Linked DNA regions of Homo sapiens: region 2 is linked to region 1. A link means that fine-mapping ties the variant in region 1 to the expression of a gene that starts in the linked region. Tissue or cell type: esophagus mucosa. Region 1 holds a variant in brackets; the other region holds the start of a gene. All regions are shown on one strand. Distances are from middle to middle.

What was found. PIP is the estimated chance that this variant, and not a neighbour inherited with it, causes the effect.
Region 2: it holds the start of TBRG4, and the variant in region 1 is fine-mapped to the expression of TBRG4 in esophagus mucosa (GTEx, PIP above 0.99). The same link has a PIP of 0.9 or more in cerebellar hemisphere.

The regions. Positions count from the first base shown.
Region 1 is chr7:44,963,994-44,971,845 of GRCh38, forward strand. MYO1G (myosin IG) reads right to left here. Exons shown (of 22, transcript NM_033054.3): 7 at 7,680-7,796; 8 at 6,842-7,066; 9 at 6,599-6,744; 10 at 6,047-6,161; 11 at 5,712-5,882; 12 at 5,420-5,490; 13 at 3,891-3,965; 14 at 3,612-3,744; 15 at 2,679-2,845; 16 at 2,080-2,287; 17 at 1,644-1,867; 18 at 952-1,096; 19 at 422-526; 20 at 56-169. Among named protein-coding and RNA genes, the nearest start is that of MYO1G, 11 kb to the right of the region's middle. RefSeq lists an enhancer at 2,065-2,164. The variant G/C (reference allele first, on the strand shown) is at 3,990.
Region 2 is chr7:45,109,382-45,115,026 of GRCh38, forward strand. It overlaps TBRG4 (transforming growth factor beta regulator 4), which reads right to left and starts at 2,316. Exons shown (of 11, transcript NM_004749.4): 1 at 2,262-2,316. RefSeq lists enhancers at 2,015-2,724, 2,088-2,843.

The sequences.
Region 1 (7,852 bases):
GCCCAGCAGTGCCCCTCACAGATGCTGCACCCTACTCCCCACCCACATTGCTCACCGCCTCAAGGGGCACGGCCCGCATCACCCGGTACTGCCGGTCAGGGTCCAGCTTGTAGAGGTGCTGGTCTGTGAGCAGGAGGGCCCGGTTCCGGATCTTGTGGAAGCGGTTCACCTGTGGGAGAGGTGGCTGGACCCAGGCTGGTGCTGCCCTGTCACCCACCAGGGCCCCAGGCTTCGGCAGTCCCTACTGCCTCCCCTCCCCGCTGGCGACAGTTTTGGGAGTGTCAGGAGCAGCTGGGCCTGGGCTGGGGTTGCCTCCATTTTCTCCCAAGTGCCCCCCCAAAACTCTGCACCAGCTTCTAACCTTGCAGACGTGGCTAGAAAAAGAGCACAGCCCTGAAGCCATCCTTGTCCCTTGTCTAACCTTGCGGACATGGCTTGAAAAGAGCACAGCCCCGAAGCCATCTTTGTCCTGAAGTGTCTTTAGTCGCTGAGCAAACAGGCTTGATGCTGTGGGATTGTCAGTGGCCTGAGGACAGATGGAGGGGAGGGGGCGCTGCTTGGGATTGAGTCATGGGACCAGACTCAATTGATAGCAGCTGTCTGTGAATCAGCATAGCTATCCTTCATCTCGGGAAACTGAGTCACACAGACTTGTGCGTGAGCTGAGCAGCCCTGGATTTCCTGAGGGCACAGAGCCCTCTTGTGTTGACTTCTAGGCTGCATCTGAGCCTGGCCCTCCTGTCATCCACACCCACCCCCGAAGGCCACTGCTCCTGAAGCCCAGGATGAGACCTTGCAGAGCTCTGGTGGGGGCTGAGGTACAGGGCCACCAGGACAGACAACCCCAGGCCTGGGAGAGGACATCTGAGGGGACCTGGTCACAGCATTAGCCGAGAGCCCTCTTTGGCAGCCCACTTCCCCCTGGCAGCCCTGGACTCGCCTGGCACTTACAGAGGACAGGTAGTCTCGGGCCCAGGCCCGTCGGCAGCCCCAGTCCTGACGAAGCCCTTGCAGGGCCCCCATGGCGGCCACCTTGGCCTTGATCTGGGGCATGTCTGAAGGGGGGATGTTCTTCACCAGCTGCCGGGCCCGCCACCTGGGAGAGGGCATGTAGTCAGACAGATGCTGGCCATGTGTTCATGTGCTCCCTGAGCCCCCTCTCCACAGAGGAAGCTGAGCCCTCAGCCTGGTGCTGCCTGCCTTTCATGTCCCAACCTCTGCCGGCCTCTCTGGCCTTGGCCCCTTGTGCCTAACGCTTGTTCCTGGAAGGTGACCCAGGGACCAGCAGTCGCCCAGTGTCCTCCTGTTCTGAGCATGCTCTGTGCCCCTCCTTCTGGAGAACTCCTACTCAGCCCTCAAGACCCCGCTCAGATGCAGAATCCCCTTACTTCCCAGCCCTAATGGGCCTCCCCCTGCAGGCTGCAGCCCTGGACCTTGAATGCCCACCACAGTACCCAAGATGGTCAGGGCTCTGCACCAACTGTGGGACATGAGCAGTCAGCTAATGTGGCATAGCATCCACCTTCCCACCTATCAAGGGGGCTGGTGTATCTCCCATCCAGGCACTGCAGGCCCGGGATGATGGGTTAAGGTATTCAGTGGATGCCAGCTGAATGGAATGTGTGGTGGGCTGAGAGTAGTACCTGCAGAAGAGTGCGTGGCAGGTGTCCTGGAAGGGCTGCAGCACAGCAGGGGGCAGCGGCCACACAAGGTCACGCCCGTAGAGTGGCGGCTGCCTTGCAGCCTGGAATCGCCGCTGCAGCTCAGCCAGGTGAGCCCGCACCTTGTGTCTCCGGAACCAGCGCATGATGGTGTAGATAGCCCTCAGCCTCCGGCAGCGCCACCTCGCCAAGGTGCCCCGCCATGCCTGGGTGGGCCAGGTGGGATGGGATACGCAGTCAAATTCAATCAGGCCCTAACCCTTAGACCCAAACCTGGCCCTGAGCATTTATTGAGCACTCCCTGGCCTGTCTCCATCAAGCAGAGACTCCTGTGAAACTTACAAGTGTGTTTGTGGCCCCTGGGACACAAGCTTTCCCCACCTCCATAGTGGATGTCTTCCTGCCCCGCCCACCTCACCTTCTGCAATAGCAGCACAATGATGGGGATGAGGCGGGCTCGGCTCTGCTCCAGTGTGACCAGTGTCCGGGGTGAGCGGATGAACAGCTTGCTGTGGCCAAAGGCCACGTCCCCCTGCAGCCCGTGCTGCTCCAGGAGAGCGCTCACGGCTGCCTTGTCGGAGCCCAGCAGGTGGTTGGGCCATGTGTATTCACAGGTCATCTTGTACCTGTCACCACAGGACAGGGCAGTGTGGCCCAGGCCTGGGGGAGAGATGATGGAGCCCACCCTGCCCACCCCACACCTGGGGAGATGGCAGGGATACAGAGTGTGTTCCTGGAGCACTTATGACACCTGTGCACATATGTCTTCCCATACACATGTCCTCACATACATGTCCTCACACAGCCCTCATACCCATGTTCCCACCTGTATGTCCCCACATGCATGTGCTCACACACATGTCTTCCCAGATATTTTGGTGTCTTGAGGCCAGCAGCGTGCTGGTTCCTGCTTGTATCGATGTTTGCGACGTGCTGTTTGGGGACCCTCTGCTCCTACCCCTTGGACTCCACACAGGGACTATGGCCCATGGAGTGATGGGTGTCAGGTGCCAGTACCTGAGCAGGAATCGAGAGTAGGGCTGGCGGGAAGCGAAGCCAGCCCTGCGGACCCTCACATTCTCCAGCAGCCCCAGGTATGCGACCTGGTGGCGACAGTGGTTCTCATCCAGCTTCCCAGCTACCTTGTCCTCATTGGGCTTGATGCAGCGGACGTAGAAGGGCTCCTGCAGGGACAGAGGGGACTTGGAGAGGGTCTGCGCCAGCAGCACTGTGCACCCTGCCCCACACCAGGGGCTTCCTAACCCCTCAAGGTCCCAGGCCAGGAGAAGAGTTGGGAACAAAGAAGGGAAATCAGCAGAACAAGGGCCCTGGAAGCCCTAAGTGCTGGGCAGAGGCCAGCAAGGCCAGGTTCAGAGCCAGGTTCCAGCCCCTGGTCGGGGGGTGGGGAGGTGGGCGTGGCAGGGGCAGGAGCAGGCCTCGCCCCATCTGCCTTCCTTCTCTCCTTCCAAAAGGGGCTGACATCTCTGGATGTTCTGTAGTTAAGCTCACCCTAACATGTCCTCTCCCTGACCCTTCACCTGTTCCTCTTCTGACTTTTGACCCAAAGCTCCCCAAGAAAGCTTGTGCCAGTTTCCTGTCTCTCTGGCCCCACCTGCCAGAAGAATCCTGGGTTTTTGCCAAGAGCTGGGCTGGGCCAAGCCAGCCTCTCAGCAGGGTCTCCCCAAACCCCTCCCTGTTCAAGAGACAATGGGGCGAGGAGAAGCCTGGGTTCCCCATGATTGATCAAGCCTCAGCCCAGCCCCTGAGGCCCCACATCTCACCTGTGCAGTGGGTGGGGTCCACTGCTGGAGCAGATGTGGCTCATACAGACAGGACAAGAACCCTCTCCCCACCACTATGATGTACAGAGGTGGTTGGGACCCTACTTGGCACCGAGGGCACAGAGAGAAGGATCCGGAACAGCCAGAGTGGGAGAGGGGTGGAACATACCTTGGAGGCAAGGTTCTCCACCAGGGCCACCATGGAGTTCTTGAAGAGTGTGCCAGCCGTCAGGGGGCGCTTGGTCACCTCTGTGATGTCCTGCTGCCCGTCCGGCCACATGGCCCGTAGAGTGGGGTCCGTGCTGCAGACACAGGCCGAATTCCCAGCCATCCTCTGGGAGAGCAGCCCCACCCACCCACGTCCTGACGCTAGTCAATGCCTGACCCCAGAGTCTCTGGGGCCCCAGGGCCCTGGCCCTCCCTATGGTGCCCAGCAAGCCGTGCTCACCTGTTGTACAGCAGCCGCTTGAAGTCCTGGAAGAGGAAATCTCTGTTCTTGTCGATGAAGCCTTCCACGGAGTACCTACCAGAAGCCAGGGCTGGTGAG[G/C]GAGCAGGGGCGGGGGCTGCCAGGCCAGAGTGCTAATGACCCCAGCAGCCCCCACTCTCTTCCCATCTGCCTCTGTTCCCATAGGTCAGTCTCTCTTCCTCCCTCTGCCTTGGCTCCTCTCCTCCTTCCCCCTCACACCTGCTTTCTCTTTCGTCATGTAAGACTCCCTCCCTCAGGAGACATTTCTCTCCTGGAAGATGAATCGAGTGGTTAAGCCCCCAGCTCTGAAGCCAAATGTCCTAGCACCGAGTCCTGCTTCTACCACATGCATGCTGTGTGACTTTGCCTAAGCCACTCAACCTCTCTGTGCTTCAGTGTACATCAGTTGCTCAGAACAGTGCCTACTGAATTTTGATAAACATCAGCGACTACAACTATGACTAGGAACTCCTGAGTCCTGGGCCTATTTTGATCTGTGGGCACTGAGAGCCTCAGAATCACTGTCTAGTTCTTGGACTGCTAGAAAGGTCAGTGCCAAATCTTGGCTCCAACTGCAGCACCTATGAAGGCTCAGGGAATGGATTTTTTTTTTTTTTTTTTGAGAAATAGTCTCACTCTCTTGCCCAGGCTGGAGTGCAGTGGTGCGATCTCAGTTCGCCACAACCTCTACCTCCCAGGTTCAAGCAGTTCTTGTGCCTCAGCCTCCCGAGCAACTGGCATTACAGGCACGCGTCATCGTGCCCGGATAATTTTTATATTTTTAGTACAGATGAGGTTTTGCCATGTTGGCCAGGCTGGTCTCGAACTCTTGGCCTCAGGTGATCCACCCACTTTGGCCTCCCAAAGTGCTGGGGTTACAGGCATGAGCGACCTCATGGGTGTAGATTTTGCGAACAGATAAAGGTAGATGATATTGGGCTGCTTTGTTGTCATCATCTATTCTATTCCCTCTCCTTGAGAAGTTCTCATGAAACACTTATACCTTGATGTGAGTCACCTTAAATCGTTTTGGGATGCGGCAAGCAACACATAAGTTAATAGCCATCATGACAACCCCTGAAGACACCTGGGCTTTGGCACTGGGAGCGTGGTCCAAGTATGGTAGCGAGGCCTCACCTGGGAGCTTGTTAGAAATGCAGAATCTTGGCCCCCCTGCACCTTCCACTCCCTCCCCACCCCCACATCACCAGCCTGAAGCCCCCCACCCCACAGATGCTGGTATAGGGTTGGGCCCAGACATGAGACGTGGGTATTTTTTAAAGGCTCCCAGAAGAATGCAGCCATGGTTAACCACTATCCTCAAACCCTGTTTCCTGCTCTTCACTTGTGAATCTGCTGTCCGGCATGTTTCAGTGTCTTAAAGGGGTGGGGGTGGCAGAAGTGGCCATAACACCTGTCTCCGAGCCACTCCCCTGAAGCGCTCCTGCCCCATGACACATGCCATGGTGCCTGTGGGAAAGCCAGGGATGTGGGTGGGAGGGGGCCCTTACGTGACGTCCCCTGCATAGTGCTTGATCCGGAAGTCTCGGCCAAACTCCATGGTCTTGTCTGTGGGGCAGAGCTATGGGGACAGGCTGAGGTCAAGGCACAAAAGGTATGTGGAGGGTCTGTATGAAGGGATAGCCCTGCCTCCCCACCTCCAGGGCAGAGAAGGTTGCCACAGTGACGACAATGGCACCAAAGCTGGGTCCCCAACCAGGCCCCACGAGGCATGGGCAGCATGGTGCCTGTGGGGCAGGTCCCACCAGCCCACTGTGGTGGCACTGGGACAGCCGGGGGCACCTGGCGGCTGGTGTAGTGTAGGTGATGGCGGTGGTGCATGTCCAGGGTCTGCAGGAAGATTCGGTCAGTGATGGTGCCAGCAGAGCTGCAGGCCTCGTCCAGCACGGCCAGGATGCCACGGTGGGGCCGCTCCACCAGATCCACAATGGTGGCGTTGTTGAAATACTCAACCTGGGGCAAAGGCAGCCAGCAAGGAAGCTCCCAAGGTCTTTCAGGCCACCTCCCCTCCTCCGCCCCACACTCAGCCACCTGTCAGGCCAGCCCGGGCCCCTCCCCATGGGCTGAGGCCCCTCCACACCCCACTGCCTGGCCTCCCTCCAGGCCACAGTGCTCACGCTCTGCCAGGTGATGCCCTCGCGCTCGTACTCTTCCTGTTCCTGCTTCAGGATGAGCTGGATGAATAGCTGCTGCAGCTTCTCGTTGCAGTAGTTGATGCAGAACTGCTCGAAACTGGGGGTGGGGTGGGCCTTTCAGAGGGGAGGTCGCTGCTTGTGGAGTGCATGGTAATGGGTGGCTGCTCCCCTGAACATCTCTGCTAATGTTCATTGAGGGTTCTGGTGCCAGCACCCTGTGTGGCTTCCCTGTGGCTTATGCATCCCTGCCCTGGACTCCTTTACCCCACCCACACCTCCTGCATGCACGTTCTGGAGTGGACTTGGGAGTCACAACCAGGAATTACTCATGCCCCGTAATTCTGCCTTCCATCAGGACATCAATGGTCAGAGGGTGCAGGTGAGGCAGGTTTGGGAGGCATGAGCCTTGGGCCCAGGGACCAGCCGGGAGAAACCCCAACATTCCTGCTGCCCAGCCCCAGCCGAGCTTTCCAGAACTAAGTGGGCAAAGCTGCTGGGTGTCAGAGGTGGAGATGTGGCTGGCCAGCCACCCACCTGTTGACGGGAAACACCTCGAAGCCATAGATGTCCAGCACGCCAATGACTGTGTCCTTGCCATCACGCCGAGGATCCCGGCCCCGGGGTTCCATGACACTGTTGATCCTGTTCACCACCCACTCAAACAGCCGCTGGTACACTGCCTGGGGGATAGGAACACCCTGCTTCCTGCTGCCTCTGGCCTGGCCTCCCCCATGAAGGCCTCCTGGGCTTCCCTCCCTGTGCCTGCCCCCAAAGTACCTTGGCACAGGCATCCCGGGCATAGCTGGCCTCAGCTGCAGTGTGGCCCTTCTCTATGAGTTCCCTGCCTCCCGAGGCAACTGTGCGAGCCAGCAGGGAGCGGAGCACGAGGTCCCGGGGTGTGGCCGTCAGCTCAGCCACATGGTCCACCAGTGCCTCCTCGGCCACTGCCAGGCCCTCCTTCTGCAGCCCACCCTCCTCCGTCTCCACAAACTCGATGTTTCCCTGGTGATGGGAAAACCATGAACAGTCCGGGCTCCATGTCTCAAAAGAGCCTGGACAACTTTGGACAAGAAGGAGGAAGGAAAGCAGGGGACATGGATGCGGTAGAGTACAGCTCCTTCTCAGACCAGCATGGTCAGCTGCTCACCATGGGCACAGACACAGCCAGAGACTGGGGGAAGGGGGCATGGGCACACCAGAGTCTCTGCCAAGGCCTCGAGGCCTCGAGTCCAAATGACATGTGAATGACCCCATCGCATCCTCCCACAGCCAGCGGAGCCCTGCACTACTTACTCCTCATGCCGCTTAGAGAGAACTGAGGCCAAGAGGCACTGAGTAAATGCAACCAAAGCCACACAGCTCATGACTGCACTAAGAGGCAGTCTGCATGATGCTCAGCTTTTACTGCGCCTGGCTGACCTGGCCCTAAGAATGGGGTCTGGACCATGTATCAACTGAGCTCATCACTCGAGCAGCTCAGCTTCTGCAGGAGAGGCAGTCAGCCTAGCACATTGCTGGGGCATCTCCAGCCAGTCTCCTCCTCATCCCTGGGTGCTTCCCAGCCAGGAAACCCTTGTGGGGAAGTAGCCCTCCCAGGCTTCTGAGCCAGGCTCACCAGGTGCAATATGGCAGCCAGGATGCGATGCACAGACTCCACCTCTTCAGGACTGAAGCCGATGACCCTCATGGCCTCGGTCACTGCCTGGTGGCTCTGCTCATCACTGTCCAAGGCCTAGGGTAGAAGGGATTCATCACTCCAAAGCCACACTGGGCCCAGGACACCTGTCT
Region 2 (5,645 bases), 140 kb after region 1:
AAATCAGACTAAGTCTTTCTTGACAATCCATAGGTATGTGATAGTATTTTCTAAAGCAAAAGTCTCACAGGATTTTTGTTTCAGTACAGAATGCCATCAAATATCAAAACTCAGGAACATTACAGCCTGGGTGGGAGGGTTTCCATCCTGCTTGTAATTTGAAATCACCTAGGATGTGGTTCAATAATTCAGATTCCCAGGTCCTGCCCAAGGCCTCCTAAATGATGGCATCTCTGCAGACACGACCTAGACAGCATTAATTTTTTTTTATTTTTTTATTTCAAGGGTAACCAGGATTAAAAATTACGGGCTTGGCCAGGCGTGGTGGCTCACGCCTGTAATCCCAGCACTTTGGGAGGCCTAGGCGGGTGGATCACTTGAGGTCAGGAGTTTGAGACCAGCCTGGCCAACATGGTGAAACCCCATCTTTACTAAAAATATAAAAATTAGCTGGGCATCATGGTGCACGCCTGTAATCCCAGCTACTTGGGAGGCTAAGGCACAAGAATTGCTTGAACCTGAGAGGCGGAGATTGCAGTGAGCTGAGATTGCACCACTGGACTCCAGCCTGGGTGAGAGACTCCATCTCAAAAAAAAAAAAAAAAAAAAATTCACATTCCCAAAGCCTCTGTGGATATATTTTAACACTGTAGACATAGGTGTGAGCCTCTCGAAACCAAGGTAGATTACATCACTAGCCTACTAAAACCCCCCCACCAAATTTCTAACAGCAAAAATTCTGAACCAATAATAAGAAGCACTTCATAACATGGCCCAGAATGATTTTCTCAGTCTTAGCTTTTTCTGCCTCCCAGCAACACAAGGCCCCATTTTAAACAGGCCTTGCACTTCCACTTCACCTTACAGGGCTTGTTATCTGGGTCTCCTCCTCCCCCTATAAGACCCTTTAAAATACATCTCATCCTTCCAAGGCCAAACTCAATGTTGCCATCTCCAGCAATGTGTTACATATAGCCTTGATGTTGCTTTTAACAATTCTATCGGCCAGGCGCAGTGGCTCACGCCTGTAATCCCAGTACTTTGGGAGGCTGAGGCGGGCAGATCACGAGGTCAGGAGATCGAGACCATCCTGGCTAACACGGTGAAACACCGTCTCTACTAAAAATACAAAAAAATTAGCCGGGCGTGGTGGCGGGCACCTGTAGTCCCAGCTACTAGGGAGGGTGAGGCAGAGCTTGAAGTGAGCCGAGATCGCGCCACTGCACTCCAGCCTGGGTGGCAGAGCGAGACTCTGTCACAAAAAAAAAAAAAAAGAAAAAAAATTCTATCAGCTAGTCTAGCTCCCTACGGTGATTACATGATCCAGGGAAGACATGCGACAAGGGCAAGATAAAACGTTCACCTAGGCCTCATTTCTGCCAAAGCAGAATGTACGTTTGATCTTTCTCCACTTCCTGGAACTTGGTATATGGCCAGCACATTTTCTTTTTATATGAGGGGATTAAAGCAGCTGTAAAAAGCTTAGTCTAACTCCACTTAAAGAAAAAAAAAAAGAGAGAGAGATCAGAGAGTCGGAGTATTTGCCCAAACGCAACATCTACCACTTCCTGAGCCTAAGCACAGTGTAGAAATCTTTCCGACTTATTTTTTTGAGACGGAGTCTCGCTCTGTCGCCCAGACTGGAGTGCAATGCTGCGATCTCGAGTCACTGCAACCTCAGCCTCCCGGATTCAAGCGATTCTCCTGCCTCAGCCTCCCAAATAGCTGGGACTACAGGCCCGCGCCACCACACCTGGCTAATTTTTGTATTTTTAGTAGAGACAGGGTTTCACCATGACCTCAAGTGATCCACCCGTCTCGGCCTCCCAAAGTGCTGGGATTACCGGAGTGAGCCACCGCGCCCGGCCGCCTTTCCAATTTTTTAAGAGCCCTAAGAGCAGTTTAGCCGAGTAAACGGAAGCCCAGGAGCCAGACTTGAGTTTAGGCAAACAGCAATCCAAAACTTTAGTTCTAAAATGCAGAGAGAAAACAACTTGCACTAAGTCACGAAAACTGGCTCGCTGGGGTCATGGACGGTCAACAGGGGCGGCGTCTTCCAGGCCTGGCCGCGCGGGCTAGAGAGGAAGCGTGCGCACTGGCAAGCCAGCACGGAACGAGCAGACGGCCAGGCCCACGGCATCCCACCGCGTCCCAGCCTGCTCCCCAGTTCCACCGCATCCCAGGACCTTCCCAGCCACGCCTGTGTTGTGCACTCGAAACCCACGATCAGCCGCCCCTTCTCCCCGTGCCACAAGACCTACGCAGCGAGCACCACCGCTGACCTCCATCCGCCGCCCTAACTGTCCCCGGAACCATGAGGTGCGCGGCGCGCTTCCCTACGTCACTCGGAGCGCCGGCGGAAACGAGACGAGCCTCGCCCCGCACGTCCGGAAGCCACGCCTCCAGCTTCCGGCCACACCTTTCGGCGGGTGACATCTTTGCTGAGGGCTCAAGCGGAGCGATAGGTCATGGGAAACTTAGAAAAGATAAAGAACCTAGGAAGAAAGGCTTCGGTTGCCCCCCGACCAGTACGCCATCCTCATACGGAGTGCGGGAGACGACCCTTTGTTGTCGGTGCTGTCACCCTATCCCTCCCTGCTTGCGTAGGCGTAGGAGAGTTCCTAGGGCGGTGGAAGACTGGGCTGGTGGAGTGGGATAGGCGACGTTGAGGCCTGTGGGGGCTGGGAGGACGAGTGAGTGGAGACTGGGGAACTCCAGAGCGCCCACTTGCAGCTGGATTTTTATGTGCAATTTTCCTGATTTTTAAATAGTGGTGTTTAATTACAAAGTAAAGTGCAGGATAGCCCAAACGAAATGTATCTGAGGTCTATATATGGACTTGATTAATTTTTACTTCCTGCACAGCCTTTTATTTTCTGTGGAGTTAATAATTACTTGGCTACGCACGGTGGCTCACGCCTGTAATCCCAGGCCTCGGTGGGCGGATCACTTGAGTTCAGGAGTTCGAGACCAGCTTGGCCAACATGGCGAAACCCCGTCTCTACTAAAAATACAAAAAAATTAGCCGGGCGTGGTAGGGCGCACCTGTAGTCCCAGCTACTAGGGAGGCTGAGGCATGAGAATCGCTTGAATCCGGGAGGTGGAGGTTGCAGTGAGCAGCGATCTTGCCACTGCACTCAGCCTGGTTGACAGAGCAAGACTCTGTCGCAAAAAACAAAACAAAAAACATAAAAATAAATAATTACGTTTGTTTGTGTTTGTAAACTAAAAATAAAATTGTAAGCCCCCCAAGCACTGAACGGACCTCCTCTTAGCCAAGGAGACCCCAGAGAAACCTTAAAAACTGAGTTCCCAGCCATTCTGGAAAGGGAGGTTGAACACCCCTTGTTAAAGTAGAGATCATAAGACTAACAGACTTTGTGGTAGTAAGATACCAAATTATAAACAAGACCTAAGGCCGTGCAAGGCAAGGGTTAAGTCAAGCTTGCAGACCATCAATCTTGCTGAAGAGGTCTTTTTTGACCCAGTGTATTGTGGCTGATTCTGGCATACTATCTTAAACATTCTTTTCTGCTGACTCCAAATTTTACACAGAGCCTCACTCTTTTAACCAGTTGCAAATTAAAAAATCTCTTGGTCAAGCTGGCTGAGGTGGGAGGATCACTTGAGGCCAAGAGTTCAAGACTAGCCTGGGCAACATAGGGAGACCCTATCTACCCCTACCAAGAGATCTATCTATCTATCTATCAATCAATCATATATCGTGTATATATCTATGTATTTGAGTCCACATATAACTTGTAAACCCCCCACATCAAGACATCCTGTCTTTTGGAGCCAAACCAGTGTATACCTTCCACACATTGATTTATGTCTTTGCCTGTAACCCCTGGCTCCCTGAAATGTATAAAACCAAACTATAATCTGACTGCCTCGGGAACACTTAAGGCTTTTTGGGTTTGTATTTTCCTGGGGCTGTGGTCACTCATTGGCCCTGAATAAACCTCTTTAAGTAATTTACAGAGTTTGATTTTTCTGTTAACAGTTAATTAAGATTCCATGTATTTATCACAAATTCTACTCCAAATCCTTCACAAGTTGTCTGTCAAAAGACAATATTACAACAGATTTATAGATCTGTTAAAAGAAAAGCTTTAGACAAACTAATGGAGTTTTGTTGAGGAAAGAACCTTGAAAACATGCTAAGGGAAAGAAGTTAGACACATGAGGCCACATATTGTATAGTTCCATTTATATTTGCAATGTCCAGAGTAGGTGAATTGATAGAGTCACCTATGTGATGTTGAGGTGGGGAGAATAGGGAGTGACTTCTGATGGGTTTGAGGTTTCTTTTTGAGATGGTAAAAGTGTCCTGGAATTGGATAATAGGGATGGTTGCACAACACTGAGTATACTAAAAGCCACCTGTGACTTAAGAAATATATATGTGGTCTCTGCATAGAGCTTCTAAAACCCTTGTAACTTTTTTCTTTAGGTTTTCATTAAGGCATTTTATAAAGATAATATCATTTGTATTTATAAAATGTTTGCTACATATACATAATATATATAGTGTATATATAAATTTAAATATGCTCAAGTTACAAAGCAGAATTATGAAAAGAAACCCGTGAACCCATTACTCCACTTAAGAAATAGAATATTACCAATATTGTTGCAATTTTCTGAGAGTTTCCTCTTCTTTCTTATCCCTCCACCCCAGCTAATTGCTATCCTGATGTTTTTCATTTGTGTATGTGTATTTTAATTTAATTTAAAGTTCCAGGATACATGTGCAGGACGTGCAGGTTTGTTATATAGGTAAACGTGTGCCGTGGTGGTTTGCTGCACCTATCAACTCATCACCTAGGTATTAAGCCCTGCATGCATTGGCTACTTATCCTGGTGCTCTCCCTTCCCCCTGTCCCATGGACAGACCCCAGTGTGTGTTGTACCCCTCCCTGTGTCCATGTGTTCTCATTGTTCAGCTCCCACCTATAAGTGAGAACATGCAGTGTTTGGTTTTCTGTTCCTGTGTTAGTTTGCCAAGGATAATGGCTTTCAGCGCCATCTGTGTCCCTGCAAAGGACATGATCTCATTCCTTTTTATGGTTGCATAGTAGTCCATGGTGTATATGTACCACATTTTCTTTATCCAGGCTATCATTGATGGGCATTTGTAAAACACTTGTAACTTCTTGAATGATAGTGACATCTTTTGTTATTCATCATAAGCCCCTTTTAACCATACCTGAGTTTATGCCACTAATGAAGTGGCTTTTGGAAGATGGGAGCTGGTTATCAGAGAAACCAACCATGTGATTAGAGGGCTGAAACTTTTAGCCCCACCTCTCAACCTCCAGAGAGAGGAGAGAGGCTGGAGATTGATTTGATTACAGTTTATCTAAAAGAAGAAACGGAGGCAAAATTAATAAAAGTGGAGAGTTTACATTTGAACCAAAATGAAGACAGCTGCCCAGAAGACTCACATGCAAGTAACCTGGGATATGAGCTTCATTAAGCCTTTGTTACAAGCAGGTTTTTAAAGGTAAAAAAGGGGACTAGGCATGGGGCAGATAAAAAGTTGTTTGTCAGGAATTCTCATTGGTTTACAGAAATAACATTGATTAGTGATGGCTATACATTGTTGAATGATAGGGTATGAGTTATGTTGTGCAGCATGC